Homo sapiens: one gene and its partner. The protein of the gene in region 1 interacts with the protein of each later gene in a biochemical or structural test. Each region holds a gene or a part of one and is shown on either strand. Other genes may lie near its edges.

What was found.
Region 2: of the proteins of ALK (region 1) and PTPRB, one has a biochemical effect on the other in vitro, tested with the Homo sapiens proteins (one large-scale study listed by IntAct).

What each region holds. Positions count from the first base shown.
Region 1 is NC_000002.12:29,221,860-29,225,677, reverse strand, and holds part of ALK (ALK tyrosine kinase receptor isoform 1 precursor), read left to right. Parts: intron 1-112; coding exon 113-217; intron 218-1,854; exon of another isoform or gene 1,855-2,149; coding exon 2,150-2,336; intron 2,337-3,070; coding exon 3,071-3,161; intron 3,162-3,269; coding exon 3,270-3,334; intron 3,335-3,818. UniProt on the Homo sapiens protein: Neuronal receptor tyrosine kinase that is essentially and transiently expressed in specific regions of the central and peripheral nervous systems and plays an important role in the genesis and differentiation of the nervous system.
Region 2 is NC_000012.12:70,567,785-70,571,602, reverse strand, and holds part of PTPRB (receptor-type tyrosine-protein phosphatase beta), read left to right. Parts: intron 1-152; exon of another isoform or gene 153-313; coding exon 314-577; exon of another isoform or gene 578-1,664; coding exon 1,665-1,928; exon of another isoform or gene 1,929-2,105; intron 2,106-3,818. UniProt on the Homo sapiens protein: Plays an important role in blood vessel remodeling and angiogenesis. Not necessary for the initial formation of blood vessels, but is essential for their maintenance and remodeling. Can induce dephosphorylation of TEK/TIE2, CDH5/VE-cadherin and KDR/VEGFR-2.

The DNA of each region.
Region 1 (3,818 bases):
TGGGAAGGAGCAAGTAGTTTTTGTCTCAGTGGGGGAGGTTATTTCTGACTTGGGACCAACTCAAAGGAGACCTGGTGTGGTTGTCAATACCCCAGTGGGACCTGTCTTCCAGTGTCACCCACCCCGGAGCCACACCTGCCACTCTCGCTGATCCTCTCTGTGGTGACCTCTGCCCTCGTGGCCGCCCTGGTCCTGGCTTTCTCCGGCATCATGATTGGTGAGTGCACAGAGCCCCAGGGACTCCCAAGGGGGCAGGAAGGCAGGACTGAATAGTGTCTCAGGCTGTGCCACAGGTGCCAAGGTGTCACTTCGTTATGCTAGTCCCTGGAATTGGGTGGGGTGGTGATTAGGGCAGCCCAGGCCAAGCCAAAACGGAAGCTCCCAACCTTCCCCCCACCAGAGCAGCTGCAGTTCCCTGAGGAGCCCCTGATTCTGCACCTCAGCCCCGTGTGTATCCTCCTGGCTGATCAGGGGGTGGGGAGCTCCTTCAGTGTCCATCACGATGGTGAAAGCTCGCCCCCACCCCTAGACGTCACTTCTAGCTCCCACATGCTTCCACCGGCGCAGCTCCTGTTTGGCTCCCACCCTATGTAATGCACTAGCCCACTCTTCCCCAAACCAGCCCTCCACCACCCTCCAGGCAGAGAGATAGGAAAATCGGTTTCTGAGTATATTTCTGTTCAGCCTGTGAGCCAAGGTGAGCTGACCTGCAGGTCACAGAGAACTCAGTGTGGTCCCAACCAGCTCTTACTGCTGGCAGAGACATGCCCAGGACAGATGGGCAGAGGCTTGAAAAGGGCAGAGGGAAAGGCTCTTGAGAGCCCTCGCAGGCCAGGCCCCTGCAGGCAAAGGGATCTGCCGGTAGAAGGGAGATGGCAGCACACACTGTGTCCCCATATGGTGCCATCCCTCAAAGGGACAGGATAATAGGAGCTAACACTTGTTGCATGGTTACTACGTGCTCGGCAATTTACACATTTCAATTCATTCGATCCTCAGGTAACCCTAATCTGATCACGGTCGGTCCATTGCATAGAGGAGGGAACTGAGCACATAGCGGGTGACTCATTTGCCCTGGCCCATGTGTTGGGGGGCTGGGCTTTACACACAGAATCTACCCACTGAATCACAATTTTGTTCTGGCTTCCATGGAGTTTGCCTTCCAGAACATCCTCACATGTAGGAGTGATAATGGTCACTCACATTGGTAGAGCTCTTTAGGATTTTTCAAAACCATTTTATGTTGGTGAATTCATTTCATTGACAACCCTAGAGGGTGGGGAGTGGCAGTGGTTAGGGAAACAGGGCAGGAGTTACCATCCCTGCCTACAGAGAGGGAAACTGCAGTCCAAAGAGGTCCTGTGACCTGGTCCTCATGGCTCAGCTTGTAAGTAACAAGAGGCGGAATTAGAGCACAGATCCCCAGACACCAATTCAGAGATCTTTTCATGATGTGGCTCTTCTCCAACTCTGTGGCTTGGCAGTTCTCCAACTATAGGAAACACAACTGACCAAGATCCCAGCTGCACCCTCAAATCCACTGCTGTGATTGCACTGAAGCTGCCCTACCCAATGGCTGAGCACAGCAGAAATACTAAGGCAGGCCAATTCCTGGGAGTCATGGGACTCCTCTGATGACTGACTTTGGCTCCAGAACCCCTTAGGGCCTTGCTGAAACTTCCTTAGGCTCCATGGCACCCAGGGTGCTTCCACCCAACCTTCCCTCCCTCCCTCGTTCACGTGGGGTTATACTTGCAACACAGTCTGCTGGTTCACCCAGCCTTCCCTGGCTCCCTCCCCATTTCCTCTCATGGGCATTTCTTCTAATAAAATCTGCAGACCATATTGGGTCTAATCCCATCTCCAGTCTGCTTCTTGGAGGAACCAGACTAACATGACTCTGCCCTATATAATACAAATAATTATTTTCCATATATCTGATTTTTAGCTTTGCATTTACTTTAAATCATGCTTCAATTAAAGACACACCTTCTTTAATCATTTTATTAGTATTTCTAAGTATGATGGAAAGGTTCAGAGCTCAGGGGAGGATATGGAGATCCAGGGAGGCTTCCTGTAGGAAGTGGCCTGTGTAGTGCTTCAAGGGCCAGGCTGCCAGGCCATGTTGCAGCTGACCACCCACCTGCAGTGTACCGCCGGAAGCACCAGGAGCTGCAAGCCATGCAGATGGAGCTGCAGAGCCCTGAGTACAAGCTGAGCAAGCTCCGCACCTCGACCATCATGACCGACTACAACCCCAACTACTGCTTTGCTGGCAAGACCTCCTCCATCAGTGACCTGAAGGAGGTGCCGCGGAAAAACATCACCCTCATTCGGTGAGCGCCCTGCTGCCGTCCTGGGAGGAGAGGGGTGCAGTGTAGGGGCTGAATGTTATCACAGCACCGCAGACTCCTCTAGCCACAAAAGGCCGGCAGAGCCCTCCCTATGGGCACCCCTAGCCCTCCTAGGAGGACAAGCCTTGACATTCAGGGCCATGTATGTTGGCTTACATTAACTCCCATAGTTTATGGAGTTTATACAATGAGAGGAGAACCAGGGCTCTCCTCAAAATTCATTCAGATGTGCTCTCTCCAAGTCTACCTGGCTCCCCTTCCCTCCAGGGGAGCAGGGGAGCAAAGGGCCCCTCCTCTGAGCATCTAGAGCAACTGCGCCTTCCTCTGTCACTCACTGGAAATACTCCCCAGCCAGTACCCACAGTGATCTGTCTCTCCCCAAGGAGCATGAACCTCCCCCGGGGAAAAGCCATGGCTTATGCACCCCTGTGTCCCTGGCAAATATCAGAGACTCAATAACTACTGATTGAATGAATAAACATTTGACCATTGTCATGAGTCCCTGGTTGGAATCCTTCTTACCAGTTTTCAGGTGAAGAACTGGAAGCCCGAGATTGCATAGCAAAGCCATGTTGAGGGTATTACTCCTGAGTGTGTATGTTACCCCCGCCTCTCGTGTTTGTCCACTAAATGTGACGCCCAGGCTCAGGACCCCCAGCTGCCTCATTATTGTGGCCTGTTTGACTCTGTCTCCTCTTGTCTTCTCCTTTGCACAGGGGTCTGGGCCATGGCGCCTTTGGGGAGGTGTATGAAGGCCAGGTGTCCGGAATGCCCAACGACCCAAGCCCCCTGCAAGTGGCTGTGAAGGTAAGAAGTGGCTCACTCTTGAGCCTGCCCTTGGCTTGCGGACTCTGTAGGCTGCAGTTCTCAGCTCACAGCCTCCTCCTCCTCCCCACCCTCCCCTTCTCTGCCCAGACGCTGCCTGAAGTGTGCTCTGAACAGGACGAACTGGATTTCCTCATGGAAGCCCTGATCATCAGGTAAAGCCACAGAGAGACACCCTCACCCCAACTCCCCTCTGCCCCCAAAGAACCTGGAGAGGTTTCTAACAGATCGATATCTCCAAGGGAAATCGTGTTGTCCCTAGCATGTCCCCTTTTCTCCAGTAGGAGACTCCCAAACATTCTAGACACTTCTTACCAGAATGGAACAACCCTTGATGGTTGTTTCAGAAACAAAGTCTGTGTGGCCTAATAATCCCACCGATGTCACTGTCTGCAACCAGTATCCCTGCTGTTATCCACTGGTTCTTCTTCCCTCACTTTTTCTTAAGAAATGGAGCATGCTAGACTTTGACAGTACAAGATATAATCTCCCTCCAAGACCCTTCACCAATCCCAGTAATTGTGCTTCTAATATGATGGGAGGCCACCCCATCCTAGGCTCCCATCAGCAGGGCTGAGTCTCAGCTGGCTGCACCTTTTGACTTGAGGCTCCAAGATCTGGATTTAAGCTGAGAGTCTC
Region 2 (3,818 bases), on another chromosome or scaffold:
CATTTTTCTTCCCTATCTTCCTGCATCATGGCATTTAGATTCTAGACTTCTTGTTTTATCTTATGATTGAGATCATAACTCATTTTATAATTATGTTCTACCAATGCTGATCATGTAACATTTATGTCAGGAAAAAACCACAATGTTAATAGTTGCTTCCAATTTTTCTTGTTTAATTATGCATGAAGTAGTGCTAGTGGTTTATTTGGGGAAGGGAGATGTTGCCAGTTCCTTGAATGTGATTCATAAATTATTATGTAGGTAAACTCTGATCAGTTCCTTTCCTGAAATGTCTTCTCATTTTTCTCCCTAGTTCCAGAGCCTGTTAAGGATCTAACATTGCGCAACAGGAGCACTGAGGACTTGCATGTGACTTGGTCAGGAGCTAATGGGGATGTCGACCAATATGAGATCCAGCTGCTCTTCAATGACATGAAAGTATTTCCTCCTTTTCACCTTGTAAATACCGCAACCGAGTATCGATTTACTTCCCTAACACCAGGCCGCCAATACAAAATTCTTGTCTTGACGATTAGCGGGGATGTACAGCAGTCAGCCTTCATTGAGGGCTTCACAGGTAATGTGAAATACTGTTCTTGAACCTGAATAGATGCAGTGGTGCATTTAACTTTCGGGTAGTTCAGGTATTTCGATTGAGCATTTGGAGGGATAAAAGGGAGACAGCAAGAAGGGACAAAGTCATGTTGATAGTGACAATGATGTTGTCCAACCTGGATGAATGAAAATAAAGTATGATGTCAGCAGAGAGTGGCGGGGTTGGAGGGTGCTTTCAGAGAAATAGCAATGAACTGATGTGATCAGCTGGTGCTTCTGAGGCACACAGATTAAGAATTAAGTGTTACTTGGGTATCACTTCTTTAGAACTCTTTTAGGAGTGTTGCCATAGTAGTTAACATGTACTGACAGTTCACCATGAACCAGACCCACAGCAAAGCATTTTATGTCTACATCTTGTTCAGTCTTCACAATGCTTTGGAAGCCAAGGCAGGAGGATAGCTTGAGCCCAGGAGTTCAAGCACAGCCTGGGCAACATGACAAAACCCTGTCTCTACAAAAAATACAAAAAAATTAGCCGGGCACGGTGTTACGTGCCTGTAGTCCCAGCTACTGGGGAGGCTGAGGTGGGAGAATCACTTGAGCCCAGGAGGTATAGGATGCAGTGAGCCATAATCATGCCATTGCACTCCAGCCTGGACAACAGACAGAGACCCTACCTCAAAAATAAAATAAAATTAAATTAAAAAAGAATCAATCTTCACAACTCTATGGGCTGGTTAGTATTATCATCACTGCCATTTTTCCTAATGAAGAAACTAAAACTTACAGAGGTCAAGTAATTTGCCTGTAGTCCCACAGCTAGTGAGTGAGAAAACCAAAACTTGGACCAAGACACCCTAACTAGCCCCTCGCTATATAATTAGCATTCCTCATTTCCACTCACCGGCTTTGACTTCCCCCTAAGCTTTCCCCCATCAACTTTAGTTCACACAGAAAAATCAGAGAAAAGTGGCAAATTGTTACTTTCTTTTTCATGTGAGTTCTCTCAGTGGGTGCCAAAACATCAGAAGCATTCAAAACTTTGTTTGAAAATTTCAACAGTTCATTCTCTAAGTGATGACTTTTAAATTTATTTTCTGTTTTAGTTCCTAGTGCTGTCAAAAATATTCACATTTCTCCCAATGGAGCAACAGATAGCCTGACGGTGAACTGGACTCCTGGTGGGGGAGACGTTGATTCCTACACGGTGTCGGCATTCAGGCACAGTCAAAAGGTTGACTCTCAGACTATTCCCAAGCACGTCTTTGAGCACACGTTCCACAGACTGGAGGCCGGGGAGCAGTACCAGATCATGATTGCCTCAGTCAGCGGGTCCCTGAAGAATCAGATAAATGTGGTTGGGCGGACAGGTAAGCATCCACCTGGAGAAGGGCTAGATTGTAGAATGCCTCATGGTTCTCCAAAATGGGACAGTGAACGGGCTCAGCTATTCACAAATCCAGATTTAAAACCACCAAAGTTTGTACAATTCAATGGTTTCAAGAGCCTTACTCATTTATTCTTTGTATTTTTCTCTTAATAGAGATCTGCAAAACAAATGAAAGGGAATCAGAAACCAAATCATTTGAACACATTTTTATACTTGCTAAAGGATAATAAAATTTTAAATTTTAACAAGCAGGCTGGGCACAGTAGCTCACGCCTGTAATCCCAGCACCCTGGAAGGCCAAGGCAGGTAGATTGCTTGAGTTCAGGAGTTCGAGACTAGCCTGGGCAACATAGCTAAACCCCATTTCTACTAAAAATACAAAAAATTAGCCAGGCGTGGTGGTGCACACCTGTAGTCCCAGCTGCTTGGAAGGCTGAGGTGGAAGAATCACCTGAGCCCGGGAGGTCAAGGCTGCAGTGAGTCGTGATCGTGCCACTGCACTCCAGCCTGGGCAACCGGAGTGAGACCCTGTCCCAATAAATAAGTAAATAAATAAATAAATAAATTTTAATAAGGAGACTTCCATAATTATGCATTTTTCAAAAGTTCTACCTTTTAAGAAAGAGTACACATCTGTGCCATCTACTTTACCTGGTAGAGCTAAAAAAACAAGTATCAAATGTATGAATAATATATCTGTTTATATCAATATCACTATTCATGTATTATTTTTGAAAGATCTCTAGCCATACTATAGTTCTCTTACAGATGAGGAAAGAACAGTTCAGAAAGCTTGTAAAACAGTATCAAGGATACGTATATAACAAGACCTAAAGCTATAATTCAAGTCTAGGTCTGTCTGGCCCCAAACCTCGTGCCCTCTCCACTGTGACACAATACTTCTTAGATGTCTCCCATTCTCATGACCACTTATTTAGTTGTGGGGTCTGGGGCTTCTATACCATGCCCTACTATGCCTCTATTTCATATCTATATTTATATCTATATCTGCATATCTTTAACCCTATGACAAATCCTGTGTTAGAAGTGGGCATTCGGGCCAGGCGCGGTAGCTCACGCCTGTAATCCCAGCACTTTGGGAGGCCAAGGTGGGTGGATCACAAGGTCAGGAGATTGAGACCATCCTGGCTAACATGGTGAAACCCCGTCTCTACTAAAAATACAAAAAATTAGCTGGGTGTGATGGCAGACGCCTGTAGTCCCAGCTACTCGGGAGGCTGAGGCAGGAGAATGGCATGAACCCAGGAGGCGGAGCTTGCAGTGAGCTGAGATCATGCCACTGCACTCCAGCTTGGTGACAGAGTGAGACTCTGTCTCCAAAAAAAGAAAGTGGGCATTCAGTAGCAAGGCAAAGCCCCTGACCTCAAGAACCTTATAATCTAGTGAAGGAGATAGAAAAGTAAAAAGGCAATTACAGTAAAACATGGTACGTGCTAAGAAAAAAGTGGTTATGAGATGTTAGAGGAGCAAACAAGAAGAGTCAGGGAAGGCTTTCAGGAGGAAGTAATATTTAAAGAAAGACTAAGAAGTCATCCAGGTGAAGTGTAAGTTGTCTTCGTTCCAACAGAGAAAACAAAGCCCTGGAGGTGAGAGAAAGGATGGCACATTTGGGAACCTACACCTTTTTTAGTATACTAGAATAAAGGCCGGGCACGGTGGCTCATGCCTGTAATCCCACATTTTGGGAAGCTGAGGTGAGTGGATAGCCTAAGTCCAGGAGTTCGAGACCAGCCTGGGCAACGTGGCAAAACCCCATCTCTACTAAAAGTATAAAAAGCAAAAGTATACTAGAATAAAAAATGTGAGGCATGTGGCCAGGTAAGTAGAGAGACCAAATCACAAAGAGCTT